Regions from separate parts of the Homo sapiens genome. Here regions 2, 3 and 4 are each linked to region 1. The links come from fine-mapping of genetic effects on gene expression. A gene starts in region 1. Each other region holds a variant in brackets. All regions are shown on one strand. Distances are between the middles of the regions. Region 1 holds the start of SYT17 (synaptotagmin 17). Region 2 overlaps SYT17 (synaptotagmin 17). Region 3 overlaps SYT17 (synaptotagmin 17). Region 4 overlaps LOC105371114 (a long non-coding RNA gene).

What was found.
Region 2: its variant is fine-mapped to the expression of SYT17 in whole blood (TOPMed, PIP above 0.99).
Region 3: its variant is fine-mapped to the expression of SYT17 in whole blood (TOPMed, PIP above 0.99).
Region 4: its variant is fine-mapped to the expression of SYT17 in thyroid (GTEx, PIP 0.98).

Annotation. Positions count from the first base shown.
Region 1 is chr16:19,164,392-19,172,273 of GRCh38, reverse strand. It overlaps SYT17 (synaptotagmin 17), which reads right to left and starts at 4,034. Exons shown (of 8, transcript NM_016524.4): 1 at 3,613-4,034. The coding sequence starts at 3,627. RefSeq lists an enhancer at 3,450-4,197 and a silencer at 4,389-4,638.
Region 2 is chr16:19,206,281-19,214,162 of GRCh38, reverse strand. The region is part of intron 5 of SYT17 (synaptotagmin 17); the gene reads right to left. Among named protein-coding and RNA genes, the nearest start is that of SYT17, 42 kb to the right of the region's middle. The variant A/C (reference allele first, on the strand shown) is at 2,772.
Region 3 is chr16:19,215,386-19,223,267 of GRCh38, reverse strand. SYT17 (synaptotagmin 17) reads right to left here. Exons shown (of 8, transcript NM_016524.4): 6 at 103-223. Among named protein-coding and RNA genes, the nearest start is that of SYT17, 51 kb to the right of the region's middle. The variant T/A (reference allele first, on the strand shown) is at 5,112.
Region 4 is chr16:19,378,060-19,385,941 of GRCh38, reverse strand. The region is part of intron 1 of LOC105371114 (a long non-coding RNA gene); the gene reads left to right. Among named protein-coding and RNA genes, the nearest start is that of TMC5, 36 kb to the left of the region's middle. The variant G/A (reference allele first, on the strand shown) is at 3,506.

The DNA.
Region 1 (7,882 bases):
GATGGTGGGGTGTTTCCTATCACCACCCACAAATAGAGGGAACTAAAAAGGAAGCCCTAATCTGGTCCTCTTGAGGAAGGAGGTCCTCCCTTCCTGTTGTGGCCCCACCCCGCCTCCCCATCTTCGTCTCCTGGGTTCTCAAGGCACAGACTCCCTCCTTCTCTTTAAGGTGGTTTTCCAAATGGGCCAAGTAGGCTAGATAGGTTAGAAGTACTGCATCCCAACCTCGGGCATGTCCCAGAGGTGAACTGAGGTGGGACTCAAACTCAGAACTTTGAATCAAGAGGGAGAAAGTTATTATCTTTTTTCCGATTCTCCTTTAAGGAGGAGAAAGTCTCAATTTGGTACCACTACATGTTAACATCTTTTACCACTTACCAATTTCCACCCTCCCCCATCCCCTTTCTTTTAAACAAAGAAAGTAGATCTTGTCCAGAGGCTTGGAGACAGCCACGTCCACCTAGAATTCAGTAATGTGGCATTATTCCCATTGGGTTTATTCTTCTAGTTGCCTTCTGCGATGTCACATGATCTTGGTTTCCTATGATATTAGTGACATAATGTTTCCTTTTCATATGATTTTTTTAAAGTAAAAATAAAAATGAGCCCATTTATAGAAAAAAAATTAAGTTAATAATAGCATAGGTAGGGCTGGGCGTGGTGGCTGATGCCTATAATCACAGTACTTTGGGAGGCCAAGGCGGGTGGATCACCTGAGGTCAGGAGTTTGAGACCAGCCTGGCCAACATGGTGAAACCCCCTCTTTTCTAAAAATACAAAAAATTAGCCAGGCGTGGTGGCAGGCGCCTGTAATCCCAGCTGCTGGGGAGGCTGAGGCAGGAGAATCACTTGAACCTGGGAAGCAGAGGTTGCAGTGAGCCGAGATCGCACCACTGCACTCCAGCCTGGGCGACAGAGTGAGACCCTGTCTAAAATAATAATCATAATCATCATCATCATCATCATCATCATCATCATCATCATAGTATAGGTGGTACGTGGCTTGTGAAAAAATTGAAATCCTCGAAGTGGTAAGGGAATAGCAACAGCTTGGGAAATAGTCAAAGGCACTTATCACAAACTCTCTAAAGCCAAAACTCAAACCATACACAGAACAAGACCCAAAGGTGCTGAGGGGCCACGCAACAAGCTGAGCCAGGAAGTACTAGAGTCCTAGTCTCACCATCGACTGATCATGTGACTTGGGCAAGACAGGGGGCCTCTCTGAGCCTCGGTTACCTCTTCTTTAGTGGAAAGGCTACTCTATACCTCAAAGGCGTGCTGTTGAGGTGGGACAGGACACTGACTATGCAAATACTTGCGTGCGGTCCAGCTGAAAAATAAAATGCACCCTTTCTGTGATGAGAATTAGGTGATTGTCAAGACCTAGTGGAACCCAGTAGGCACTGGGTATTGTCCCGGCAGGTACAGCAGGGCACAAAACAGCAAAATATTATACCCTCATAGGGCTTGCATGAAAAAGTGCTTTAGAATGTTAGGATAAAGTGATACTTTTTCATAATAATCTATGACCATTTTCTGAATACAGGGAAGCATTTCCTAGACATGTGGTGGTCAAAAGAGGCCATTTATGAAACCAAAGTGAACAGAGACAAGGTCACCTCATGGCCCTGCTGAAAAACAGCCTCCCCAACTTTCTCAAAGCCCAGGTGCAAGATGAGTGTCAAGGAGCAGAGAGAAAGCAAAGAAGATGAAAGAGGGTGCCCTGACATTCCCAGGCATGCTGAGTCTTTCTGGCATTGGGTCTCCTGGGCTCACGTGTTTGACACCGATGGAAGAGAACCAATTCACACCAGAAAGAAAGAGGAAGAAAGACAACCCATGCATTCTAAACAGAGGTTGGCAAACTAAGGCTCGCAGATCAAAACCAGCCCCGCAGCCTGTTTTGCTACAGCCCTTGAGCTAAGAATAATTTGTGAGTTTTTAAAAGGTTGAAAAAAAAAAAAGATGAATGCCTCTTGACTCGTGCAAAGTATACAAAATTCAAATTTTGGTGCCTGCAAATAAAGTTTTATTGGAACACAGCCACGCCCACTCATTTACTACTGTCCATAGCAGTTTTGGTGCTATAGTCAGAGTGGAATAGTTGTGACAGAGACCATGTGAGCCTCCAAGAGAAAAAAAATAGTATCTGGCACTTTACAGGACAACAAAGTTTAACACCTTGTTCTAGAAGGAAAACCAACATCACTGGGTCATCGCCATATGAGATGCTTAACATATCTACCACAGTCCCCTCTTGAGATCCCACCTTGACCCCTAAGCAGCTATGTGGCCTTGGGCAAGTCACTTAATTTCTCTGTGCTGAAGGCGGCCATTAAGAACTCCAGGAGCCGGTAATCATGTTCATTTCTCACTAAATTGCGCACCCAGAGGGGCAGGAACTGTGCTGTTTTCATCACTGTATCCCCAGTGCCAGCACTTAGTAGGCGGTCGCCCAAGTGTTTGTTGGGCGACTACTCAATAGCCCCTGGACAACATTCAGCACACAGTGGGTGGACAGTAATGTGACCTTCATTGAACTTGAAGAGAAACTGGCGATTCCACGAAAGGGAAGCCAATTCAGGGAATCTAAGGCAGGAGATGAATGGAAGAGGCTCCGCCAGGTGACACAGCACAGAGTTCCCGGCAGGCTGAAGCGTCTGAGGACACGATGAGGGGATATGTGACCCAGAGGGGAATGGGAGGACCAGCAGCACCCCCAGCTGTGGCTGAGGGGACAAGATGTGAGCCAAGATGCACCCTGGACGTGGGAGTCTGTAAGCTTCTCTGCCCAGCTCAGAGGCGCCAGCGCCAGAAGCAAGCAGCTCAACGGGTCTCACTGCGGGTCTGCCTGCTTGACCTTGGCGCTGACCTGCGGTCACTTCCCTTCTTGCAGAGGAGAAAGGTCTTTTCACCAAGAAGCCCGGCCCACCCCTCCGCCCCCTCCCCCCAAAAAAGGCTGCTTAGAAATTATTTCAGAATTATTTCAGCCCAAGGATTCTTGGGGGACGTTTCTTCAAGGTGAAGAGGGTCCACATCTCCCAGACCCCAATGCAGCGGAGTAAAGTAACAGGCTCCCTTCTCTTCACCAGCGCGCCTCTGGCCTCTGGGTGTCCCCCACCCCTCAGCACCCAGTGCCCAGGAGAGACGACGTCCTTGTCCCTCCTGGTCGGAACAGCTGCCTCAGGCTCGCTCCGCCGGCCAATTAGCCGGAGCCGTCACCACGGCAACGGCAGCTGGCGGGCCGGGTGGCTGGCGCGCCCCGGGCCGCCCTCCCCACGGCCCCTCCCCTGGGGTGGGGTGCCAAGGAGAGGGAGGGGGCAGGGGAGAAGAAAAGTCCGCCCCACCCCCCATTCCCTCCCCAAGAGGCAAGGGCGCGCGTTGCAGAGTACACATAGGACCCTCCATCCCGGGGTTTGGGGGTCCCCAGTCTCTCCTCCCGGGGCGCACCCCTGTTGCTGCACAGGTTGCCCGCGCACGGGCACCCTTTTTCTCGAAGCAAGTTTGTGGGAGCCTAGCCGTGGGCCCTCCCTTCCGCGCGCTCCCAGCCGGAGGGGGCGCGGCACCCCCTACCCGCACCCCGGACCTTGCCCCCAGCCTCAGCCCTACCTGGATGTACGCCATTTTCGCCCGCGCGCACTCACTCCGGCCCGGGCATGGCGCCGCCACGGCCACTTTGCCCTCGCCAACAGCGGAGGGGGAAGAAAGCAAAGGGGGAAAGGAAGAAAAAGGCAGCCGGTGGCCCCAGACGTGACTGGCGTGGCTGATGAGCGGCGCCCGCCCCTCCGCCGGCCGCCCCGTCCTTGCCTTTCCCTGCGTTCCGGCTCTCGGAATCGGGGCCGCCTCCCCGGTTCGGAGATATCGGGCGCCCAGGGCCCCCGCCTCGGCCTCCCTCGCTGTCCCGTGCTCCCCACCGAGGCGCTCCCCAGGCTGGAATAAGGCCGGGGCGCCTGGGCAAGCAGCCCGGGGCAGCTGCGGGGACTGCAGCGACCCCAGCGCAGGCGGGGCCGGAGACGCCGGGGCCGGAGCGCGCAGGAGGCGGGGGAGGGGATGGGAATGGGGAAGGGGGTGGGAGGGGGCGGTACACAGGTCAGCCCATCCTGCTGGCACGGGGGCTGGCACCTACCGAAAGCAGCGCCCCCGGGGCAGCCGTGGAGCCGAGGGGACACAGTGCAGCCTGCCATGAAGTCTGCAGCAGGGAGGGTCCTTCCCATCCAGCCCTCTCCCCAAACTGGGTTGGAAAAACTTTATTCCCGCCCCACCCGACGCGCCTAGCACGGTTGCGGTGAGGCTTGCAGAGGCTGCGTGGATGGGAGCCTCAAGTTAAGGTGGGCGTAGGGCGTCCCAAACGGAGGTGCTGCGTCCAGGGCTGCAGGGGGCGCGCGGAGAGAGCGGAGCGCCCCTTTACCCTAAACCTGCCGGAGTTGCGCCCTGGACGCAACAGGTCTAGCGCGGGGCGGCCCGGCAGCGCCACCCAGCGTCGTGCCCGGCCTCGTGCGCTCCTCTGCCCACGGGCAGGCGGCCGCCAGCGAGCGTGCGCCCCGGGGCGTGTCCACCGCCGCCCTCCTGCCTGTCCTCGTGGCTGGGGCGCCCTGGACCCAGAGGCCTCCATCAAACCTCCCAGCCCAAGGCCTCTGGCTCTCCACTCAGAGATTCGAGGTGGAACATTGCCCTCCGCTGGATTTCTTATTTTATTTTATTTTATTTTATTTTATTTTATTTTATTTTATTTTATTTTATTTTATTTTATTTTTGACACAGGGTGTCACTCTGTCACCCAGGCTGGAGTGCACTGGGGTAATCTTGGCTCACTGAAACCTCCGCCTCCCAGGTTCAAGGGATTCTCGTGTCTCAGCCTCCCGAGTAGCTGGGACTACAGGCACATGCCACCACGCCCACTAATTTTTGTATTTTTGGTAGAGAAAGGGTTTCACCATGTGGGCCAGGCTGGTCTCGAACTCCTGGCCTCAAGTGATCTGCCTGCCTCGGCCTCCCAAAGTGCTGGGATTAGGGGCGTGAGCCACTGCGCCGGGCCGGTTTTCTTTTTAATATGCCCAGTCATCTCCTGTTGCCGGACACCAGCTTATCAGCATTTTAATTTTAACCTCCCAGTGCCTCTTTTTCCTCAGTAAAAACAGGAGAAAATCTCCACCCTGCCTATCCTCCAGGGCTGATTTGTGGGAATAAATGAGAAAATGAATATGGGAGTAACAAAAGATGGATATTCAGATGCATATATTTTTTGTCTAAAAATCTAGCAGACCTATACATTTTTTAGTATGATATATTTAGTTTGTAGCATATAGCACGTAACGCATATTGAGTGCTTATGATTCTGCAGGCATACACGCCTCAACACTTCACAAGCGTTATTTCATTTCAACCTGCAGTACCTTGATCACTCCTATTAGGTAGCACCTGTCCAGCCAGAGTAGGCACTCAGTAATTGTTTTTGTTGCCTTATTCACTCTGCTTCCTGAGGGAGGTGCTATGATTATCTCCAATTTATGAGGGACTGCAGCCCAGACAGGTAAAGCCTCTATGAAGGCCTGACAGCTGGTAGCCCAGGGCACTGACATTTGAACCCACAAGTCCAGCAGTGAACCCAAAGTGGCCACTCCTAACCACTTTGTGGTATTTATCCACAATCTTTCTCCAGCACTGATGGCAAGGCATGCCAGGTGGGGAGTGAGCCTCACAGAGGAGGATGCCTATTGGAACGGGTGCTCCTTGGGGGCACTTGAGGGAGTTCGAGGAATTTGCTAGGTGTTCCCATAAGTAAAAATAGTTAACCCTTTTTCACCTGAGGTCAGGAGTTCGAGATCAGCCTGGCCAACATGGCGAAACTCCGTCTCTACTAAAAATACAAAAAATAGCCGGGCATGGTGGCAGGTGCCTGTAATCCCAACTACTCAGGAGGCTGAGGCTAGGAGAATCACTTGAACCTGGGAGGCGGAGGTTGCAGTGAGCTGAGATCGTGCCACTGCACTCCAGCCTGGGTGACAGAATGAGATACCATCTCAAAAAAAAAAAGTTAACCCTTTTTGAGGTCTGTGTACCAGGCACTGTTTTCAGCCCTTTACACAAATTTTGATCTTTTAATTCTCTGATTACCATGAGGTAGGCACAAGTACTATCCCACTCTTTAGGTGAGAAAAAAAGAGGCATTAAGAGGTGAAGTTGGCCAGGCATGGTGGCTCATGCCTGTAATCCCAGCACTTTGGGAGGCCAAAGTGGGTGGATCACTTGAGGCCAGGAGTTCAAGACCAGCCTACAAAAAGTTTCTTTACAAAATACAAAAATTAGCCCGGCATTGGTGGCTCACACCTGTAGTCCCAGCTACTTGGGAGACTGAGGCTGGAGAATCGCTTGAGCCCAGGAGATTGAGGCTATAGTGAGCTGAGATCACACCACTGCACTCTAGCCTACATGACAGAGTAAGACCCCATCTCGAAAAAAAAAAAAAGAGATGAAGTCATTTGCCCAAGGCGTGTCATGCCAGGCCACTGTTAACTCCTTTAGGAATAGTACCATGTCCAGGAGGCCAAAAAAGAGACCTAGAGACAGTGAACGAGACACAGGGTTTATTGAGGGAACTTACATACAGGGACAATCCAGTGGCAGCTGGCTGGACAGGAGAACCTCTACTGTTTATATAAAAGCATGCAGTTTATGTAGCATTTTCACTTAGCACCCTCCACCTAGCAACTTCCTTTTGGCCCTTTAACCCAAAACAAAGGGCCTCGATTGTTTATATAAAAAACATGTTTATATAAAAAGCATGCAGTTTATATAGCATTTTCGCTTAGCACCTTCTATCTAAGCAACTTCCTTTTGGCCCTTTAACCAAGGGTTTTGGCTCTTTAACCCAAAACCAAGGGCCTCAATTGCCTGTACAGCCTGCATTCCAAGGGATAGGCAGGGGACCCAGACATCCTTCATAGATAAGGAGTGAATCTCCAGGTTGGCCACTCCCGGATTCCTTAGCTCTGAACTGTGAATACACATTCTTCTTAGACCATAGGGTCGTTCGCAGGGTAAGCTAAGTTCAATTATTGCCGTCAAATGTGTCTGCCCTGCAGGGTGTGTGTGGCTTCCAGGAGCTGGGATTCAAACCTAAACCTGAATCCTTTCCCTAGCCCCTGCACCATGTTGCCTAATAATGCCTGATCTTGGAGGAGGGGGATGACCCCGTCCCCAGAATTTTTTGGTACCTTAATCCCTTATGACCTGAAACTGTCCAAGAATACTAAGCACCTCTCGAGCAAAAGAAGAGGTTATTTAAAATGCGGATAATAGAACCTGCCTCTGGTATTATGAAATGCTTTAAATGTATGCAAAGCACCTGGCAAAATAGGTGTTTGATAAATGCTTGTTGAATGAGCAAATGGGTTGCAACAACAGCTAACATGGACACTTTCAACTCTCAGACAACTGGTTATTATGATTGAGTGTTAAGCCCTTCACATTTGTTTTTGTTTCATCCCTACTGGAGCCTTACAAGGTGGGTACTGTCATGGTCCCCAGTTTACGGGTGAGGAAACTGAAATCCTGAGACGAGAAGCAAAGTGAGTTGCCCAAGGTAAACAGGTGACAAGAGACAGGGACAGGACAAAAATGCAGGTCTGGTTAGCAATAAAGTCTCAACTCATCATGGCTGCACCATCGTCAGATGAAAGAATGGACGAGAAATCAGTTTAAGTCCTTCATCAGGGGAGTGTCAATGAGTTCCAGGATCCCACTGCTTTGCAAGCCTCTCCTGCCTTTCACGGGGACATGAAGTCCAGCTTTTCAATGTAACTTGGACTCAGATCAAGGCTGTGCCTGCAAAGCTGGCACCTTTACAGATCTCAATGAAGAAGGCCCCAATCAGGGAGGT
Region 2 (7,882 bases), 42 kb before region 1:
GTAATTTTGTCCTCTCTGCTGCCACCTCCAGGGACATTTGGCAACATCTGGAGATGTTTTAGTTGTCATAACTGGGGAATAGGGTAGGGTCTGCTACTGGCATCTAGTGGGTAGAGAGAGACCAGGGATGCTGCCAAACATCCTACAAGGTACAAGACAGCCCCCCTCAACAAGGAATGGTCTGGCCCAAAATATCACTAGTGCCAAAGGTGAGAAATCCTGAACTAAGCCTATAAATCTTGGGCTGATTCAGATTTTTTAAATACATAACTGTACCCTGAACAAAATTTTAACAGGAACCGAAGACTTGGAACTTTTGGTATAAGAACAGTTCGTCAGGTGCAGTGGCTTGAGCCTCTAATCCCAACTACTCGGGAGGCTGAGGTGGGAAGATGGGTTGAGGCCAGGAGTTTGAGGCCAGCCTGGGCAACAAAGCAAAACCTTCCCACCTTCCATTTCTAAACTTTCTTTATTTTTATTTTTTAATTAGCTTAGCATGGTGGCATGCATCTGTGGTCCCAGATACTCAGGAGGCTGAGACAGGAGGAATGCTTGAAGCCAAGAGTTTGAGGCTATCTGATGCGAGAAGCTCCTCTTCAAAGGTTTAGCTTGTTTAGTTTCCTTGTTCTTTGTTCTCTACTTTTAAGGCCAAACTTCCTTGCTCTCTGTACCTCCCTGTCTTGGTTTCAGTAAACAACTCTTCCACTGGTCCTTATCTACAGAGCCTACATCTACTACCCACTCTGTAAATTACCCCTCCCATCACAGCAGCTCTTCCCACCAAAACTGTCCTTCCTGCCAGTGTAACCGCATTCCCGCACTTTCCAAGTTAGCCAACCAGGTTCAGCTTAGATTGTGTGGTCCAACTCCAACCTGTGGAGGCAGGACACAGTAGCAGGGACAAGCTACGTTAGGGATAAAAACCCCTTCCCTCCTTTGTTCAGTGCACTCTCATGATGACTAGACCTGTGAGAAACACCTTCCTACAGAAGTAAATTTTGCCTTACTGGGAAATCCTTTGTTTTAGTGCTCATTTTCTTTGTGACACTGCACATTTGTTTCTAACAAGGCTTTAGTAAGCTATGATTGAACCCCTGCACTCTAGCCTGGGAGGCACAGCAAGACCCTGTCTCTTAAGAAGAAAGAAAAGTCTATTCACTGCCTCCACTGAGTCTGTCTTCAGTCCCCTCTGGATCTGAAGAGGCCAAAGCACCAGCCACAATCCAGAGCCCAGAAAGATCCAGCTAAGATTTCCTTCCTTCTTCTTTCTCCTTAAGCCATTCTTTTTCACTGCAAAGTGGACATCCAAGCACCAAATACAAAAATCCTCCTAGGAAGTGGGTTCAGCCCTCCCAAGGAAAATGGATTGCTTGTTCTGGTAGGATCTCCAACTCTGTGAAGTCTTCCTTATCCAAATTTAGTGAGATAAGATTGGAATGTCAGAGCTGAAATAATTTAGACCAATATTCTGGTTTTCTAAAAGAAAACGGAACCATGCCATTACCTCACTTCCCCGTTTATTTCTTATTTATTTATTTATTGTGACAGGAATCTCGCTCTGTGGCTCAAGTTGGAGTGCCCTGGCACAATCTTGGCTCACTGTCGCCTCTGCCTCCTGGGTTCAAGTGATTCTTGTGCCTCAGCCTCCCGAGTAGCTGAGATTACAGGCATGAGCCCCCATGCCCAGCTAATTTTTGTATTTTTAGTAGAGATAGGGTTTTACCATGCTGGCCAGGCTGGTCTCGAACTCCTGACCTCAAGTGATCTGCCCACCTTGGCCTCCCAAAGTGCTGGGATGACATGTGTGAGCCACCATACCCGGCCTCACTTCCCTGTTTAAAACCCTCCATCTCTCAAAATAAAATTCAAAGTGCTTAGCCTGGTCAACAACAGGGTTTGTCAACCTCAGCACTATTGCCACTTTGGGCTGGAGCATTCTGTGTTGTGGGAGCTGTCCTGTGCGCTACAGGAAGTTTAGCAGCATCTCTGGCCTCTACACACTGGATGCCAGCGGCATCACCCCTCTCCCCAGTGGTAAAGTCTCAGAATGTCTCCAGACATCGTCAAATGTCCACTGAGGGCAAAAATCACCCAGTTGAGAACTAATGGTCTCTAAAATAATTTATCTACGGGATCGAAATGATTTGATCCAAATGATTTGATTCCTGCCTACCTCTGAGACTTCACTCACCAACCGCCTCTGCCTTCTTTCTATTCTTTAAAAATACAAGATCATTGGCCAGGCACGGTGGCTCACACCTGTAATCCCAGCATTTTGGGAGGCTGAGGCGGGCGGATCACGAGGTCAGGAGATCGAGACCATCCTGGCTAACACAGTGAAACCGAGTCTCTACTAAAAATACAAAAATATTAGCCGGGCTTGGTGGCGGGCGCCTGTAGTCCCAGCTACTTGGGAGGCTGAGGCAGGGGAATGCCGTGAACCCGGGAGGTGGAGCGGAGCTTGCAGTGAGCTGAGATCCCGCCACTGCACTCCAGCCTCGGCGACAGAGCGAGACTCTGTCTCAAAAAAAAAAAAAATACAAGATCGTACCTGCCCCAAGGCTTGAACTTGCTATTCCCTGGGAATCTCAACTCAACAGTCACCTCCTCATCTAAGCTTCCCATTAACACTCAGTTGAAAACACCCCTCTGCCTCCATCATTTCCCATCACACCACCTTGTCATTTCCTTCACGGTACTTGGTCCTTACCTTTTTCTCCATAAAGGCAAAGAAAGTGCCCATGTGTCCACTACTATATTCACAGCACCAG[A/C]AACAAATCCAAGATCAAGCAGTGCAGCCCCCAACACAGAGGCTGAGCTGCTGCCACACCACGGGCCGAGAGGGGTTGTCAGCACGATGTTCCACCCCCTGTCCTATCCAACCCCCACAGAATCGAAGCCAAGACAGGAGAAGGAACTGGGTGACAGGCCCACTTCTACCTCGTCCCTTGTGGAAGCGATGTCACAAATAAACAGGCCTCATTTCCTTTCTTGTAAGAGCCCGATGCGCTTAATTTGGTCGAACCACGTGGGGTGGGCTAGGGAGAACCAAAATAGACAATCTGTAAATTACTCAGATGAATCCAGCAGCCGGCTTGGGCAAATGTGGCTCAGCTCTCTCCTCTCTACCCAGACAAAAATTCTCTCTCCCGGCAGCCTTTCAACACAGTTAATTTCTAATCAATAAAAAGGAAATCAAAGAAAATCATCTGGGACAAAAGACATTTTCTGGAGATAGCAAGAGCCCAGCTCTCCTCCTGACAGGTTTGCTTTGAACTCCTTCTCTATGGTCCTTTCGCTCTCTCTCACCTAGCAAAGGGTTTCAAATGTGCGCACACAAATTTTAGTGAAGCCCAAACACAGCTGCTCTGCGCCCCCTTATGCCTTTGCTCTCACCGGTTGGATAAAGTCTATTGTCTCTTAATCTGCTGCACAAACAACATTAAAATAGAAATGGATTTTTTAAAAAGCAAACTCCAACCGCAATGCCAGTGCTTTACACATTTCATCAAATGCTTTCACTTCCTTTTCTTTCTTCTTCTTTCTTCTCTTCACTTTTTTTCCCAGTCTTTGTCAATACCTCAACCCTGTATTTGCATAGCTGCATTGACAATACAGTCACATTCTGAAATACCCTTTAAGAAAAAAAAAGGGTATTTAAAAAAAAAAAATACCCTTTAAAAAAAAATACCCTTTTAAAAAAAAATACCCTTAGATCAGAGGGGAGAGGATAAAGAGAAGTGGGTTAAAGGGTACAAACATACAGTTAGTGAGAAGGAAAAAATTCAATGTTTGGGGCTGGGCACGGTGACTCACGCTTGTAATCCAAGCACTTCGGGAGGCCAAGGTGGCAGGATCACTTGAAGCCGGGAGTTCAGGACTCCTGCCTCAAGCAAGACTCCGTCTCAATTAAAAAATAATAATAATAAATGTTTGATAGTAGAGTAGTGTTACTATATTTAACAAAAATGTATTGTACCAGAATGATAGAAGCCCTAAATACTATGACTTTATCACTATATATTACATATGTAACAAAATTTCATGTGTACCTCATAAATTTGTACTAATAAAAATAAAATAATAAAATATAATAAAACTAAAAGAATTACACACACATTTTCCATGTGACTATCTAGACATTATAAGTGTCATTATAAATGTTCACATACAACATTCCATTAGGCTGAAATACTGTAACTTATATTAACCATTTTCCTATTGCTAGATACTTAGGGTTTTTTGTTGTTGTTGTTGTTGTTTTTGTTTTGTTTTGTTTTGTTTTGAGACAGAGTCTTGCTCTGTCTCCCAGGCTGGAGTGCAGTGGCACGATCTCAGCTCACTGCAAGTTCCGCCTCCCGGGTTCACGCCATTCTCCTACCTCAGCCTCCCGAGTAGCTGGGACTACAGGCGCCCACCACCACGCCCGGCTAATTTTTTTTTTTTTGTATTTTTTAGTAAAGACAGGGTTTCACCATGTTAGCCAGGATGGTCTCGATCTCCTGACCTTGTGATCCGCCCACCTCGGTCTCCCAAAGTGCTGGGATTACAGGCGTGAGCCACCGCGCCCAGCCGAAATGTTGACTTTCTATGTGAGTGCAATGCCCTTCCTCCATAAGCCCCCAGTGAGGCTGACAAGCTGCATTTCACACTGGATTATATTGGTCTGTTATTGTCAGGCTTTTCATTAGTCTCATCTGATGGGTATCTTGTGGGTTTAATCTGGGTTTCCCTGACTGCTAAAGAGGTGAGCACCTTGTTGTGTTATCAGCTACTTATGCTTTCTCATCTATGAAAACCCTGCTCATTTCTTTTTGATCATTGTGTATTTGTCTTTCTCTTATTAATTTCTAGAAGGGCCTTTAAGTATTATGGATACTATTATTCAGCAATTACATGTTTTTATGGGTTGAATTATTTCCCTCCCCAAAATTCATATTTAATTTCCAACCCCCAGGATCTCTGAATGTGACCTTATTTAGAAATAATGTCCTGGCAGGGTGCAGTGGCTCGCGCCTGTAATCCCATCACTTTAAGAGGCTGAGGCAGGCAGATCACTTGAGGTCAGAAGTTCGAGACCAGCCTGACCAACATGGTGAAACTCCATCTCTACTAAAAATACAAAAAATTAGGCAGGTGTGGTGGTGGGTGTCTGTAATCCCAGCTCCCTTGAACCCGAAAGGCAGAGATTGCAGTGAGCCAAGATCGTACCACTGCACTCCAGCCTGGGTGACAGCGCGAGACTCTGTCTCAAAAAAAAAAAAAAAAAAAAAAAAAAGAAGGTCCTTGTAGAAGTGATTAAATAAGATAAGGTTATACTGGAGTAGGGTAGGCCTTAATCCAATGACTGATGTCCTGATGAAAAGAGGACATTTAGACATGCACACAGGGAGAATACCACGTGAAGATGAAGGCAGAGATCTATAAGCCAATAGACACCAAATATTGCCAGCCAACCACCAGACACTGTGACAGAGGCCTGGTACAGATAATAGCTTTGCCAACACCTTCCTGACATGATTTGGCTCTTTGTCCCCACCCAAATCTCATGTGGAATTTTAATCCCCACATGTCAGGGGAGGGACCTGGTGGGAGGTGATTGGATTGTGGGGTGGATTTCCCCATGCTGTTCTCATAACAGTGAGTGAGTTCTCATGAGATCTGACAGTTTAAAAATGTGTGGCACTTCCCCCCTCACTCTCCTGCTGCCATGTAAGCCGTGCTTTGCTTCCCCTTCACCTTCCACCATGATTGTAAGTTTCCTGGGCCTCCACAGCCATGCAGAACGGTGAGTCAACGGAACCTCTTTTCTTAGTAGTGCCCAGTCTCAGGTGGTTCTTTATAGCAGTGTGAAGGACTAATACACCTCCAATAATTGCAGAGAGTAAATTTATGTTCTTCAAGCCACCAGTTTGCGGCATTTTCTTACAACAGCCCTAGAAAACTAATATATGTGTATAGCAAACGTATCCTCCCAGTCTGTGGCTTGCCTTTTAATCCTTTTTACTATGTTTCCTGATAAGCAGAAGTTCATCATTTTAATGTGGTAGGATGCATCCCTCTTTGCCTTCATTGGTTCATACTTTATTTTCTGACTTTTTAAAGAGGTGCTTTGCTATACTAAGCTCATAAAGATCTTTATTTCCTTATAAAACTTAAAGTTTGGCCATTCATCAGTTCCTGACCATCAGGATTTGATTTTGGTCTGTGTTATGAGGTAAGGCTCCATTTTCTTTCTTTCTTTCTTTTTTTTCCTGTTTTGTTACAGACGGGGTCTCACTGTGTCACCCAAGCTGGAGTGCAGTGGTGTGATCACAGCTCGCAGCCTTGAACTCCTGGCCTCGAGTGATCCTGTTGCCCTGGCCTCCCCAAGGATTACAGGTATGAGCCACTGTGCCTGGCCCCATTTTCATTTTTGAGGGAGTGGCCACCTTGTTCCCTATCTTTCTGCTCCACGAAGCTGTGAGCTCATTGAGGGTAGTGACCTTACATAACTTTCCCCCAATGTTGGAGGTGAGGCCTGGTGGGAGGTGATTGGACCATGGAGGTGGATTTCCCCCTTTGGTGCTGTTCTCATGATAGAGTTCTCAGGAGATCTGGTTGTTTAAAAGTGTGTGGCCCCTCCCCATTCTCTGTCTCTTCCTCCTGCTCTGGCCATATGAGGTATCTCTTTCCCCCCCTTGCCTTCCACCGTGATTGTAAGTTTCCTGAGGCCTCCCCAGCCATGCTTCCTATGCAGCCTACAGAACTGTAAGTCAATTAAACCTCTTCTTTATAAATTACCCAGTCTCAGGTATTTCTTATAGCAGTGTGAGAACAGACTAATACACCTGTAAATATGACTGTCTTAGTCCATTTTGCATTGCTATAGAAGAATAACTGAGGCTGGGTAATTTATAAAGAAAAGAGGATTAAGTGGCTCGTGGTCCTGCAGGCTGTACAAGAAGCATGGCACCAGCATCTCCTCTGCTTCTGGTGAGGGTCTCAGGCTGCTTCTACTTTTGTCAGAAGGGGAAAGGGAGCTGTCGTGTGCAAAGATCACAGGGCACGAGAGGAAGCAAGAGAGATGGGGAAGGCACGAGGCTCTTTTAAACAACCAGCTCTTGTGCAGAACTAACAGAGCAAGAACTCACTTACTACCATGAGGATGGCACCTAGTCAGTCATGAGGGATCCACTCCCATGACCCAATACCTCCCATTAGGTCCCACCTCCAACATTGGGGATCACATTTCAACATCAGGTTTGGCAGAGGAAACACATCCAAACTATAGCAATGGGGGTCCACAGTCCTTATTTGGAAATAGGAGTTTTGCAGATGTAATTGAGTCAAGATGAGGTCGTACAGGAGTAGGGTGGGCCCTATATCCCATAGGACTGGATTTATGAAATGGGGAGAAGAAACATGGACTAAGACACACAGGGGAGAATGCCAGGTGAGGACAGAGGTGGAGGCTGGAGGGATGCATCTCTCAGCCAAGGAGTACCAGGATTGCTGGCAGCCATCAGAAGCCACAGGAGAGGCCTGGGGTGGTTTCTCCTGTAGAGGTCTGCAAGGAATCAACTCGGCTAACACCCTGAATTTGGACTATAAGCCTCCAGAGTTGTGAGGGAATAAATTCCTGTTGTTTTAAGGCACCCAGTGTGTATTACAGTGGCCCCAGAAAACTAACACTCTGGTGGACTAAGACAAAAGACAAAGAGTTACAGACCTCCATTGCAATCCCAGCTCTCCCACATACACTGAGTGTGTGACCTCAGCCATGCCGCTGAACCTCTCTGAGCCTCATTCCTTTCCTCCTAAGAAAAGGAGGACACATACCATATATATACCCCATGAAGTTCTAGTGGAGAAGGCTGATCTTTCTTGAAATGTTTCCGTT
Region 3 (7,882 bases), 51 kb before region 1:
TGAGTAATGCTCATCCAGGATACGGAAAAAGAAAACTGGGTTCTCCACACAAACACAGATGCCCCATTAATAAAGTGAGAGAAGAGGGGAATCACACGGTACCTGAACCTTGGCTCACATCTGTCTGAAGAAGTTGCTTGGCTCGAATGACATCAACATTCAGTCTGCCAGCACTTGGGAGATAATTCAGTGACAGAAGCAGCTCCCCCAGCTCCACTTCATTCTGTAGAGAAAGGAAATGATCAGGAAGTTGCCTTCTCCTTTTATTCCTTTTGCACCCACCATACAAGAAATTGATTGCAGCAGCTCACAAACAGGTTGCTGTGAGCGCATCAGTTGACAGTGGGAGCCTCTGTGTGTGACTTCTTTTCATCTCTGCCTCTAATTATTGTGGTCCATCTATCTCTGAGTTTTTTCCGCTCTTAGATCACTCAACAGCAACAACAATAACAACAAAAGCAGCAATAATTTTTTAAAAAATGCTTCACTGCCATGTACTACGCTAAGCGCTTTACATGTAATGACTAATGAGTCTGTGAGGTATTAGTATTAACTCTGTTTAACAGATGAGGAAACCGAGGCTCACAGGGTTAAATAACATGTCCAAAGCCACAGCAAGAAAGTGGTAGAGCTGGTACTTAAACCCAGGGAGGCTGATTTGGTTCCAGATACTCTGACTGCTGTTATTCTGCCATCCAATAGGATACCTGGGAGGTAGAATGCCCTGCAGAGGAACTGAGTGAGAAATCTGTTCTTAACCTGGAGTCCCCAGCAGATCCCACGCTTCTAACCTCACGATAGCAACACTCGGCACAGTGACATCCCTTGTTGAAGAGTACCCATCCCCTTGATGTCAGCTCTGTCACACTGTGGAAAATTCCCATGAACACCTAAGTGCATGACTCCATACTGCCAAAGGTACCTAGAAAACAGGAGGCCTCCCACTTCTCTGTCCCCTTTTAAAAAAAAAAGTATTGTAGAAAATTTCAGCCATATACAAAACAATAGACTAGCATAACAAATCTCCATCTATCCGTCACAAAATTGTAACAATTATCGACATTTTGCCAAATGGTATTTCACCTATATTCTGACTTGTGAAACGTTTTAGCTGAATATTTTAAACTAAGCCCTCGATATGGTGTCATTGTACCTGCATATCCTTCAGAATGCATCTTTAACTGATGAGGACATTAAAACAAGCATTTTAGTGTGGGAAATTTCCAGTCATATTCAAAACCAGACAGAAGAGTATACCCCACCATCTTCGTACCCAAACATCATTCAGCTTCAAAAATTCTCATCCCATGGTGAATCTCCCCTCACTTACACCTTCATTCAACTCCCCATATTCCTCTGAAGTAACTCCCAGTCATTATATTATTTGTAATATTTCAATATGTATCTTTAAAGGGTAACATCTCTATCTATCTATCTAACTGTCTCATCTATCTATAATCTAACCATCTATTATCTGTCAGTCATCTATTTATCTATGTCTATTATCTATCTTTATCATCTATCTTTCATCTCTATCTTTTTTGATGCCAGTCATTTCAACAAATTAATGCCAAATGCCTAGCACAATACCCAGCGGCTCTAGAACAATGCCTAGCACATAGTAGATACTCAATAAACATCTACTGACAGGGTGAACAGTCAAACCAAAAGATTCCTGTACTGAGTGAGTTAGTCCCCAAACAAACAAGAAACAATCTCGCATGTTAACTCAGAAGTTGCTAACAAACAGCCTGCAGGTGTATTTTGTTTGCCCCACATCACATTTTAACTTATAATTACTTGTTAATTATTATACAATTCAAGAATCAGGCTATTCCACATTTTTAAAAAATGTGGGTTTCTTGCCTTGCTTGAAAAACAGGAAGATCTGGTAACGCTGGCATTCCCACCAGGCAAGTGACAAAGATTCTTTACTTGACCAAACTTTAGTCAGGCTCCTAAACCTCCTAGGCCCATCAGTGCACCACCTTGTAAAATCCAGTTTCTGCAAAGAACGCTGCTAAGTCAGTTTGGTCAGATTCCTCATTCTCTCTCTCTCTTTTTTTTTTTTTTTTTTTTTTGAGACAAGGTCTCACCCTATCACTCAGTCTGGAACAATGGCATGATCATAGCTCCCTGCAACCTCAAATTCCTGGGCTCAAGGGATCCTACTACCTTAACATCCTGAATAGCTGGGATTACGGCATGTGCCACTATGCCTGGATGATTTTTTTTTTTTTAAGAGTTGAGGTCTTCCTGTGTTACCCAGGCTGGTCTTGAAATCCTGGCCTCAAGTGATCCTCCTGCCTTAGCCTCCCAAACTGTTGGGATAACAGGCATGAGCCATCATGCCCAGACAGGTTCTTCATTCTTCGTCATCCCTCAGGTAATGTCTGATCACCCTGGCCTGTCTCCAGCAAAAATCCTGCTAGGTTGATTTAGCCAGAGTCCCCCTTACTCCTCTGATGCTTCCTCTTAGTAATGTTTTTAAAAAATCCCTGACCCCCGACTTTGCTCCATGGCTATAGATTCCCATTTGTCTATGCTGTATTTGAGGCTGAGCCTAGTTTCTCTCTGTGACTGAAAAATCCCATTACTGTGGTCCCTGTACATATCATGATGGTCCTCAATAAATTCTGCCTTGCCATACTTCAAGAAGTGTCATTGAGGACCAGGTGCAGTGGCTCATGCCTGTAACCCCAGCACTTTGGGAGGCCAACGTGGGTGGATCATCTAAGGTCACGAGTTCAAGACCAACCTGGCCAACATGGTGAAACCCCATCTCTAGTAAAAATACAAAAATTAGTCAGACATGGTGGTGTGCACCTGTGATCCCAGCTACTTGGGAGGCTGAGGCAGATCACTTGAATCCAGGAGGCGGAGGTTGCAGTGAGCCGAAATCACACCACTGCACTGCAGCCCAGGCACCAGAGCGAGACTTCATCTCAAAAAAAAAAAAAAAAAGAAAGAAAGAAAGAAATGTCATTGAATAATTTTCTTTAACCCAACATCTAGCCACAGAGCAGTGCAGTGCTCCTTTAGATGGGACCTGCCCCCTTCACATCATACCTCATCTGTCCATTTCTGCCCCTTTACATTCCTGCTGCCCTGCCCTGGGTATCCAAGTATGGAGATTTTCAAAATAGGAATGGTCAACTGAGTGTCTTGAGTAATAAAAGAAGTTCAGCCCCTTTTGCACTGTTGCTAGGGGTTTCCTGCTGCTTCTCAAGGGCTTGGAAGATGCGGTGTCTTTAGGGCATGACCCTGCTGACACATCTACTCTAGTATGAGCAATGCGGAGAATTCTCAGGAGCCCAGGCCATCCAGGTCCTCCTGGACTTTGCTCCTCCCAGGTTTATAAGTCACAGTGATATTTCCTTTTATTTTAAAACAAAACAAAACAAAACAAAAACAAAACAGAACAAAAAACAGTTTACTATGTACCAGGACTAAGGATACACCAGTGAGAACCGTCCCTGACTTTATGGAACATACACTCCTGTGGGGGGGATGGATAGCACACAGATTTTAAAAAATACATAAATGAGATGATTTCAGGTAATGCTAAGTATTAGGAAGAAAAATATAGCAGAGTGAGAGAAAGGAAGAACATTTCTTGGGTGATAGCAATATGCTATATCTTGATTGTGGTAGCAGTTACGTGTGCATTTGCCAAAAATCAACAAACAGTAAGTTCCGCCTCAATGCAGTTGATTGAAAGGGAGTGATTTGAAGTAAGCAAATGTGGCAAAATATTGGCGACTTACGACATCTGGGAGATGGACACATGGGTGTTTGTTTTATTATTATTATTATTATTATTTTTTTTTTTTTTTTTTTTTTTTTTTTTTTTTTTTTTGAGACGGAGTCTCGCTCTGTCGCCCAGGCCGGACTGCGGACTGCAGTGGCGCAATCTCGGCTCACTGCAAGCTCCGCTTCCCGGGTTCACGCCATTCTCCTGCCTCAGCCTCCCCAGTAGCTGGGACTACAGGCGCCCGCCACCGCGCCCGGCTAATTTTTTGTATTTTTAGTAGAGACGGGGTTTCACCTTGTTAGCCAGGATGGTCTCGATCTCCTGACCTCATGATCCACCCGCCTCGGCCTCCCAAAGTGCTGGGATTACAGGCGTGAGCCACCGCGCCCGGCCTTGTTTTATTATTTTATGTGGGAAATATTCCCATTAAAAACATAAAATAAATATGAAAAAGGAAAACAAGACAAATTAGGCAGTGTAAGAGAATGGATGGGGTTCGCGTGGGAGCTGCCCTTTCAGTCGGTGGATGGGGTAGGGTTTCTCTGAGAGGCGAGGTTTGAAGAGGAATGAGGGAGGAAAGAGGGATAGGGACTCATGGGGCAGAGGGAACAACATGTGCAAGGTCTGGGATGGAGGGAGGGAGGAATAAACCCGGCATCACTCAGTCAGTGTGTTCAAAGGAACAAAGAGAAGGCCAGTGTGGGCAGAATGAATGGATTCTAGAGACGCCTACAGGAACCAAGGCAAGCTGCCCAGTGGTTGATCCCAGGGGCTCTGCCCAATCCTGGCAGTCTTCACAGAACTGGAAGGAGGTGGTGAGGCCATCTTCTGGGCCCTCAATACCTAAGAGCCCCTCAAGCCACCTCTGCAGCCTTCAAGTGTGGATAGAATTGTTCCTTCCCTCCCCTGGGGCCATTGATCGAACCTTCAACAAGGCACTTCCTGAAGTCATCCTTTTTCTAAGAAGACTGAGTGTTTTTCATCTTAAGAAAGCAAAGCTCTTTTATTCCTTCTTCCCTTTGCAGATACAAGCTTGCTGTACTCTCTACCCATCCCATCCTCCATACACAGCATGCACAACAGGGATTTCAGGTTGTACTTTTCCAGGGAACCATTCCCATTGATCCGGCCACTGTTTCTGTCTGCCTTATCTGGGGAGTGATCAATTTGTAAAACTGTTGTCTGGAGTCAGGGGAGCAGTTGATAGAAAGTAAAAAAGAGGGCTAATTGTGCAATAGCAAAGGATTCATTGATTCATTTAATAAACGCTCATGTAACAGGTACTAGGTCCAAGCACTTGGGGATGTCACGATTATGATTGTTACAGCAAACCTTTATGGAGAAATCACCATAGTCC[T/A]GGCACTGTCCTGGCACTAAAGCTGAATCGCATTTCTTTTCCTTAACAACTCCAGAGGCTTCCATCTTGCAGATGAAAGAATTCAAGCTTAGAGAGCTTGAGCTGCATGACTTGCTCCAGATCATATATCATAAACAAAAAGAACAAGGTTCAAACTCAGCCCATGGTTAACCCTTACACAAGGTTTCTGGTGATTAAGCAGCAATCCCAGACATCAAGCAACTCAGTATCTATTGGTGGAGAGCAAGGAAGATATAAAAACAAATCAAAATTCCAGGGGCTGCACACCCACTAGGATGGCTATAATAAACACACACACACAAAATCATAAGCAGTGTTGGCCAGGATGTGGTAAACAAGAACGCTGTATACTGCTGGTGGTAATGAAAACTGGTGCAGCTGCTTTGGTAAACAGGTTGGTGTATGACCCAGCAGTTCCATTCCTAGGTGTATACCTAAGAGAATAGGAAACATGTCCACATGAAAACTTGTACGCAGATGTTCATAGCAGCACTATTCACAATAGACAAAAGTGGAAGCAGCCTAAATGTCCATCAACAGATAGATAAACAAAACATCACCTATCTATGCAATGGTAGGTTATTCATTCATAAAAACAATGAAGCATTGATACAATGTAGACAAACCTCAAAAAAGTGAAAGAAGCCAGACACAAAAAATCACATATTGTACAGTTCCATTGATAAAATATCCAGAATAGGTAAATCCATAGAGATAGAAAGTAGATGAGTGATTGCTAGGATCTGGGAGGTGGGGGAAATATGGAGTGACTGTTTAATGGATACAGGGTCTCCTTTGGGTGATGGGAATGTTCCATATGGAACATTCCAATTATGGAATTCCATAATTCCAGAACTGGAATTAGATAGAGGTGATGGTTGCACACCACTGAGAATTTACTAAATGCCACTGAATTGTATATTTAAAATGATTACATTTATACTATGTGAATTTCACCTCAATTAAGAAATAATTGCAAACATATGGAAAAAAGCTCATCATCACTGGTTATTAGAGAAATGCAAATCAAAACCACAATGAGATATCATCTTACACCAGTTAAAATGGCGATCATTAAAAAGTCAGGAAACAGCAGATGCTGGAGAGGATGTGAAGAAATAGGAAAGCTTTTACACTGTTGGCAGGAGTGTAAATTAGTTCAACCATTGTGGAAGACTGTGTGGAGATCCATCAAGGATCTAGAGCCAGAAATACCATTTGACCCAGCAATCCCATTACTGGGTATATATCCAAGGATTATAAATCATTCTACTATAAAGACACATGCACATGTATGTTTATTGTGGCAATATTCACAATAGCAAGGACTTGGAACCAACCCCAATGTCCAACAATGATAGACAGGATAAAGAAAATGTAGCATATATACACCATGGAATACTATGCAGCCATAAAAAAGGATGAGTTCATGTCTTTGCAGGGACATGGATGAAGCTGGAAACCATCATCCTCAGCAAACTAACACAGGAACAGAAAACCAAACACCGCATGTTCTCACTCATAAGTGAGAGCTGAACAATGAGAACACATGGACACAGGGAGGGGAATATCACATACCAGGATCTGTTGGGGGTTGGGGGGCTAAGGGAGGGATAGCATGAGGAGAAATACCTCATGTAGATGACAGGTTGATGGGTGCAGCAAACCACCATGGCATGTGTATACCTATGTAACAAACCTGCACGTTCTGCACAGGTACCCCAGAACTTAAAGTATAATAAAAAAAAAAAAAAAGAAATAATTGTAGGGCTCAAGTATTAATCAGCAATATAAATGAAACCCAAGACAGACTGAAGCACAATCTATTCTTGGGAGGGGCATGGTCAAGGAAGTCTTCATGGAGGAGGAGGCATTTGAGTTAAGCCTTGATAAGTAGGATTTAGTCCAGCAAATATTGCAGGGAAGGGTGCCCCATACAGATGGAACAGAATGAGGGAAGCCTTCACTAAAGCCCCAATACTCTTTGTTGTGTTCTGATCCTGAATTTATCAATATTATTATATAAAAGTTGATATGGTTTGGATGTGTTCCCGCTCAAATCTCATCTTGAATTCCCACATATAGTGGGAGGGGCCTGGTGGGAGGTAATTGAATCATGGAGGCAAGTCTTTCCCATGTTGTTCCCGTGATAGTGAATAAGTCTCACGAGATCTGATGGTCTTAAAAAGAGGAGTTTCCCTGCACAAGTTCTCTCTGTTTGCCTGCTGCCATCCATGTAAGACGTGACTTGCTCTCCTTGCCTTCTGCCATGATTGCAAGGCTTCCCCAGCCACGTGGAATTGTAAGTCTAATTAAAACTCCTTCTTTTGTAAATTGCCTAGTCTCAGGTATGTCTTTATCAGCAGCATGAGAACAGACTAATACAAGGGCCAAGTAACTTATTATTAATAATAAAGTTGGCTGGGTGCAGTAGCTCATGTCTGTAATCCCAGTACTTTGGGAGGCCAAGGCTGGAGGATTGCTTGAGGCCAGGAGTTCAAGACCAGCCTGGTAAACATGGTGAGATGCCCCACTTTGCTACAAAAAAATTAAAAAATTAGCCAGCTGTGGTGGTGAGTACCTGTGGTCCCAACTATGTAAGAGGCAAATGTGGGAGGATTGCATGAGCCCAGAGGTTTGAGGCTGCAGTGAACTATGATAGATCCTTGGCAACTGAGAAAGACCCTATCTTAAAAATAAGTAAATAAAATAAAGCAGCCAAAGATGGTTAATAATTTGGATGTTTGAAA
Region 4 (7,882 bases), 210 kb before region 1:
CTCACTCTGTCATCCAGGCTGGAGTGCAGTAGTGTGATCACAGCTCACTGCAACCTCCACCTCCTGGGTTCAAGAGATTCTCCTGCCTCAGCCTCCTGAGTAGCTCGGGTTACAGTTGTGTGCCATCGCACCCAGATAATTTTCGCATGTTTAGTAGAGACAGGGTTTTGCCATGTTGGCCAGGCTAGTCTCAAACTCCTGGCCTCAAACGATCCTCTTGCCTCAGCCTCCCAAAATGTTGATTACGGGCATGAGCCACCATACCCGGCCTATACTGTAATGTTTTAAATGAGTATTTTTATTCCTTCCTCCATCTTTTATTCTGAAAATTTTCAAACCAACAAAAATTTGCAAGAACAGTACAATAGACAACCACATTCCTTTTATGTAAGTTCACTAATTGTTCACATTTTACCAGACTTGCTTCTTCCTACTTCTCTCTGAGCCATATGAGAGTTAATTACAGACTTTTTGAAACTGCATTCCTGTATTCGTTTCTTGTGACTGCTGCAACAAATTATCATACATTTGTTGGCTAATTCACAAAGCTCCACCATAAATCACATTGCTAAATTATCTGATGTCACCCAAGGATCCAGGTAAATAAAGATGTCCATCTCAGGGGCTTAGAGATCACCCCCCAGGAGCTGGAGGCAAAGGGATAGACCTCTCTGTGAGTAAAGTAATTCTTCACTACATAGTAATGTTCACACTTTTTTTTTTAGATTAGGGTCTGAAATCTTCGGGAGACATCTTTTAGCCTACCTCAATCCCAGCTACTTTTCTAGGTACCTCCTGAGAACAAAGACATCCTCCTAAATGGTCGTCTTCTATTCCTTCAAACAGGAGATTTAAGAGACTGTTGTTTCCTGAAGAACTATCCAATTTCTATTCCTGTAAAATTGTTCCTCTTCTGGGAGTGGGAAGTCTCCTTCAGGAACCTGGTTCATTCTTCTGCTCCTGGAAGAAAAAAACTGAGGTCTCCCTGGCTCAGGTGCAGATCCAAGTCAGGGCCAGGTGCCAGGTGCCAGGTGCCAGGTGCAGCCAGCAGGAAGTGCTGGGTCTTCTCTCTAAGGTCACTGCACAGTCACCACTCGCCTCCATCACATTCCATCTTCCATACGTGGAACAACTGGGTTCCACCCATCCCTTTCCAGATCTGCAGGCTGGGACTGGGGGTGGGGAGGTGGCCTCCAGTAAGGAAGGGAAGAGGGAGGAATTGTCTCACAATAGAAATAGCCATCATTTCCTGACACTTCCTCTGTGCCACAGACTTAAAGATCATTTTTTAAAATTTGAGCATGTATTAGTAATATGTCTATTTAGTAAAAAAAAGGGGTAATCAGTAAAATTTTCCCTGCCCTTGTCCTGAGATGTATGATGCATTTACAAACATATACACATATATTCTTGGTTTTTTAACCCCAAAGGTGGCTTACCTGGCATCTTGTTTTGTTTTGTTTTGTTTTGTTTTGTTTTTGAGACAGTGTCTCACTCTGTCACCCATGCTGGAGTGCAGTGTCATGAGCATGGCTCACTGTAACCTTGAAATCCTGGGCTTAGCAATCCTCCTTCCTTAGACTCCTGAGTAGCCAGGACTGCAAGCATGTGCCACCATCCCTGGCTAATTTTTACTTTTTTATTGTTTGTAGAGATGGGTGTCTTGCTATGTTGCCCAGGCTGGTCTTAAACTCCTGGACTCAGACGAACCTCCTGCCTCAGCCTCCAAAAATTCTGGGGTTATAGGCATGAGCCACTATGTCTAGCTTCCACCTTGCTTTTTCACTTCATAATATACCTTCTATAGGCTGGGCGCAGTGGCTCACACCTGTAATCCCAGCACTTTGGGAGGCCGAGGCCAACGAATCACGAGGTCAGGAGATCGAGACCATGCTGGCTAACATGGTGAAACCCCGTCTCTACCAAAAATACAAAAAATTAGCCGGTGTGGTGGCGGGCGCCTGTAGTCCCAGCTACTCGGGAGGCTGAGGCAGGAGAATGGCGTGAACTCCGTAGGTGGAGCTTGCAGAGAGCCGAGATTGCGCCACTGCACTCCAGCCTGTGCGACAGAGACTCCATCTCAGAATATTAATAATAATAATAATAAACCTTCTATAAATATAATTTTCTATATATCTACATATAGAGGTAATTGCTGCACAGATGTGTCAAAATTTATTTAATCCATCTCCTATCGATGGAAATATAGGCTGCCTCTAGGCAATTGTTCTTGCCACAGCCCTGAGACCTAAGCTCTAGTCTTATATCCTCATTTTATGGATGAGAAAACAGGCTCAGAAAGGTTGTGGCATGTGGTCCAGCTCACACAGGAAATAATCGGAAACCAGGTTCTCATCCAGTGACCTTACCCTTAACCACAATGAAAATAGCTTTTATTTTGAGCCAGGAAATTACTTACCCACACACATAATTTTCTGTTTTAGAACAGTTTTAGATCTACAGAAAACCTTTGAGGATAAGATAGAGACTGCGGCCCGCAGTCCACCACGGTAGGGCCATGGGGAGTGCTCATAGGGAAGGTGTTCCTGGCATCCGAGGGTGCACGGAGGGAGCCGGGTGCTATAAGCTGTGCCCGGTCACTGCCGCCTCCCACCCTCAGCGCCGGGTGCTCCCAGCTCTGGGGGATAGCAGGTGGTAAGGGTATCTTCCTTATTCCTGCTCCCTCCTCCAAAGTGTCCTCATCCAACCCAGACGGAGCCAGCCGACATCTCAGCTAGCCTCTCAGCCAGACTCTCAGCCAGCCAGCCTCTCACTCAGCCAGGAAGACTGCCCGCTAGCCTCTCGACCAGCTTCTCAGCCAGCCCACCAGCATCTCAGCGGGCCAGCCAGCCTGCTGGCAAGCCTCCAAGACAGCCACTCGGCCAGCCTCCCAGCCTACCCCTCACCCAGCCTCCCAGTCAGCCACTTAGCCGGCCAGCCATTTAAGACTGAGCCCAATCTCTCTCCCATTGCAAAATTTCATTACTATGTTCCCTATACCTATCATGATGGTCCTGAAAAATCTGCCTTACCGTATTTTAACATGTGCCATTGAATAATTTTTTCTTCTACAGAGGTAGATGCTATTATTAGAATCACTTTATAGAGGAGGATAAAGAAGTACAGAGAGTACTGTCTCAGATTCCCTGTCTCAGGTGCCCGGGCTCATGTACAGTCTCAGGTGCACTGCCTCTCTCTTTAGCCAGCTGGTTCCCCAGCCAACGGTGCACCCTAAATCCCCAGGGAATGACAAAGTTGAGAGATTGGGTGAGGCTCAAATGCCATGGATGTTTTTAGTTATGAAGAGCTCAAGTCATCTCTAAACCTCCCAAAAGCCAGGGGTAGTCATTTCACAGAGCAACCAGTATGGTCCTTGAGGTCCCTCAGGCATGAACCTGGCTGTTGACTCTGGGTCTATTATAGAAATTCCAGATGAGAACTCCACTTTCAAGGGCAAGCACCAAGCCCTCACTGCCACTGGTAAGCCCTCTGTTCTTATCAGCAA[G/A]CTGTGAGATTATGCAGTTTTTGTGTTTGTTCTCCTTGTGGTAGATGATTTCAAATTACATGAGAATAATTTATGACCAATTTGGGTTGCATTATTCAATCAGGATTGCAGGGGTGGCAGAATCACCAGGTCAGCTCAGGCTTTGGGTATTTCTTTTTTCCTTTTCTTTCTTTTCTTTTTTTTTTTTAAGACATGGTCTTGCTCAGTCTCCCAGGCTGGAGTGCAGTGGCATGCTCATGGCCCACTGCAGCCTCCACCTCCTGGGCTCAAGCAATCCTGCTACCTCAGCCTCCCTAGTACCTGGGACTACAGGTGTGCACCACCATGACTGGCTAATGTTTGTTTTTAGTAGAGACAGGGTTTCACCATGTTCCCAGGCTGGTTTTGAACTCCTGGGCTCAAGCGATACACCTGCCTCGGCCTCCCAAAGTGCAGGTGTGAGCCACCATGCCAGGTGGGTATTTTCATTAAAAAAGGCAAAAGCCCTTGCTGATGGGAGCTGCATCAACTAAAACATGAATTCACCATAATTGGTGATTTTTGCCCCCTGAATCCTAGTCATAGTCCAAGTGAAATAGCAAGACACAAACAGGGGCATTGGCCAACAGCCTAGTTCTGAAGGAGATGGAGCAGATGTGGACACGTGGAGTCAGGCTTCCAGAAGTCATCAGGTGGATGTGTGAAGTCAGGCTTCCAAGGCAGCTCACGCGCATGGCTGTTGGCTGGGGGCCTCAGTTTCTCACCACACTGATATTCCCACAGGGTTGCTTCAGCGTCCTCACAACAGGATGGCTGACTTCCCCAAGAGAGCAGCTCAAGAGAGAGCAAGGAGAAAGACACAACATCTTTAATGATCTATGCTTGGAAGCTATATGTTGCCACTTTTGCAATATCCTACAGATCGCTTAGCTCCATCCAACATGGAAAGGGATCAGACACGGGCATCATTGCCAGATGATAATCCCTGATGGTCATCTTGGATGCTGGCCACCACAGTTACATTTGAGGTGAGTGTGGCAGGAGCAGAGCACATCTGGGGCAGATGTGGCAGGAATGAAGGATGGAAAAGGAGCTAAGGTTGTGAGTGTCTATTTAAGCCAAAGATGAGAGTTCTAGCTGGGAATAAACAGACATTACTAATATAAGAGTGTGACATTATCATGTTGGCATTTTATTTTTATTTTATTTTATTTTTGAGACAGGGTCTTGCTCTGTCATCCAGGCTGGAGTGCAGTGGCACAATCATAACTCACCGTAGCCTCAAACTCCTGGGCTCAAGTGATCCTCCATCTCAGCCTCCTGAGTAGCTGGGACTACAGGTGTGCACAACCATGCCCAGCAAAAAAAAAAAATTTTTAATCAGAGTCTTGCTCTGTTGCCCAGGCTGGAATGCAGTGGTGCAATCATCACTCACTGCAGTTTTGACCTCCCCAGGCTCATGTGATCCTCCCACCGCAGCCTCCCAAGCAGCTGAGACTACAGGTGTGTGCCACCATGACCAGCTAAGCTAATTTTTGTATATATATATATATACATATTTTGGTAGAGATGTGGTTTCACCATGCTACCCAGGCTGGTCTGGAACTCCTGGCCCTAATGCCTGCCTTGGCCTCCCAAAATGCTGGGATTACAAGCATGAGTCGCTGTGCCCAGCCTCATGTGCTCATTCTGAGGGAGATATTACAGGATTTGGTGATTGAATGAAGGAGGAGGAGGGAAAGGAAAATATTTCTGATGACAGTGAGGATTTTAACATGTTATGGTTTCAGAAGACACCATCACCCAGGGAGGCTTGAATATATCACCTGACTCAGTTACTGATATGCATCTCTCCTTCCTTAGCAAATGTGAAAACCTCAATTTTTTTTCTTGTTACCCTGCTCTTTCAGGCTGCTCTCCACCCCCAAATGTACTGCCAGCTGCTGTTTATTTAGGAAACGAAAGCTAATTTTAGTGTTAGCTTTAGCCAACCCTAATCTCGAAGCAAATCAGCTGCAAGTACAAGGGGCTTCAGAGTCAAACAGAAATACCTTTGGACTTACCTGCTGGACAAAGTTATCTCAATACTCCCCAGCACCGCTCTACTATGGATCTAAAAATAATGATTTTCCCTGCTGAATTTTGAAAATATCATGTTCACTGTATTTGCTTTATCCTCCACCTGGGATGCTCTTCCTTCAGTTCTCTGCTCAAATGTCATCGTATCAGTGACAGATGCTGAACTCCTTATGTAAACTAGCACCCCACTCCACCTTCTTGGGTGGAAAATCAACCACTTTGATTTTCTTCATAGCACCAATTGCCGTCTGACAAATGACATATTTACTTGGCAAGCAGTTTATTGTATCTCCTCACCCCTTTCATAGATTACAAGCCCCATGAGGGCAATGACCTGTGTATTTTGGTCACTGCTGTATCCCCAGAGGCCCCTGAAACAGTGGAATACCTCAATTTCTATTTGCATAATGTCATCCAGGGCTGGCCAAGGTGGAAGGCCTGGGATATGAAACCTTTAAACAAACTGCTGGTGGCAATGTTGCTTGAAATCAACTTTCTGAAAAGTAATTTGACTTGATACTCTCTTTAAAAAAAAATTAAGGTCAGGTGCAGTGGCTCATGCCTGTAATCCTAGCACTTTGGGAGGCCAAGGCAGGAGGATTACTTGAGCCCAGGAGTTCAAGACCAGCCTGGGCAACATAGTGGTACCCTGTCTCTACAATTTTTTTTTTAAATTAGCCCAATGTGGTGGCATTCGCCTGTGATCCCAGCTACTTAGGAAGCTGAGGCAGGTGGATCATTTGAACCTGGCAGGTCAAGGCTGCAGTGAGCCATGTTTGCACTATTGCACTCCAGCCTGGATGACAGAGAAAGACCCTGTCTCGATTTTAAAAATTTAATATTTTTAAACTTTTATTATCTTAAAAAAATTATATATATATGTATATATTTTGTGTGTGGAGACAGGGTCTCACTATGTTGCTCAGGCTGGCCTCAAACTCCTGGCCTCAAGTGATCCTCCCTCCTTGGCCTCCCAAAGTGCTGGGATTATAGGCATGAGCCACTGCACCTGGTCTTACTTTTAAATTTTTAATTAATTTATTTATTTTTAAGAGGTAGGGTTCTTGCTATGTTGCCCAGGCTGGATTTAGACTCCTGGGATCAAGAGATCTTTCTGCCTCGGCTTCCAGGGTAGCTGGGACTGTGGTGTGCAGCACTGCACCTGGCTGGTTCTATTTTTTTTTTTTTTTTTTTGAGACAGAGTCTGGCTCTGTTGCCCAGGCTGGAGAGCAGTGGCACAATCTAGGCTCACTGCAACCTCCATATCCCAGGCTCAAGCCATACTATCACCTTGGCCTTCCAAGTAGCTGGGACTACAGGTGCATGCCAGCTAATTTTTGTAATTTTTTTTTTTTTTTTTTTTGTAGAGATGGGGTTTAGCCATGTTGCCCAGGATCCTGGGCTCAAGCGATCTGCCCACCTGGGCCTCCCAAAGTGCTGGGATTGCAGGTATGAGCCACCACTCGCGGCCTTGATTCTCTTTCTATATGTTTATCCTAAGGATGGAATCAGCATTGTAGATAAATATTTAGAACAGAGGTTGGCAAACCTTTTCTGTAAATAGTCAGATTGTAAGTATTTGAGGCTTTGTGGGACATAAGGTTTCTGTTGCAACTACTCCACTTTGCCTTGAAAGCAACCATAGACGCTATGGGAATAAATGCACGTGGCTGTGTTCCAACAAAACAGGCAGCAAAGTGAATCTGGCCCACAAGCTGCAGTTTGCTGACTGAGATTTAGAACAAAATGCCGATTATAATGGCAAAGATTGTGAATGTCCTAATTATTCAACAACTGGGAGTTACTTAAATTATACAGCATCCACAAGATAAAAAAGAAGTTACAGCCATTAAAAATGGTATTTTCAAAGAAATTGTAATGAACTAGTGATGGGCTCAGAGCATAATTATGTCAATGAGAGTCAATTTAGCCATTAATTAAGACTCTGAACTCTGGAGTCAGAGAAATTGAAACTTCAAACTTGAGCACTTTCTAGCTGTTTGACCTTAAGCAAATTGTTTAACTTCTGGGAAACCTTTCCTTATTTAAGAAATGGAAACAGAAATATTATCTATCTTGTAAGGTTGTTGAAAGATAATGCATAGATCATATTGCTTAGCATACAATAAGTGCTTAACAAATCATTGTTTCCAAGTGGGGAATTAAAAATGGAATTATTTTTATAGGTTCGTGGATTTCAAAGCTGGAAGGAAACCTTGTAAGTCCCTCAAAATAGGTGCTCAGTAAATGTCTCCCAGTCTGTTTCTAAAAGGCAAGGGAAGGACTTTGATTGGTTCATTGAGTGTCACATGACCACAC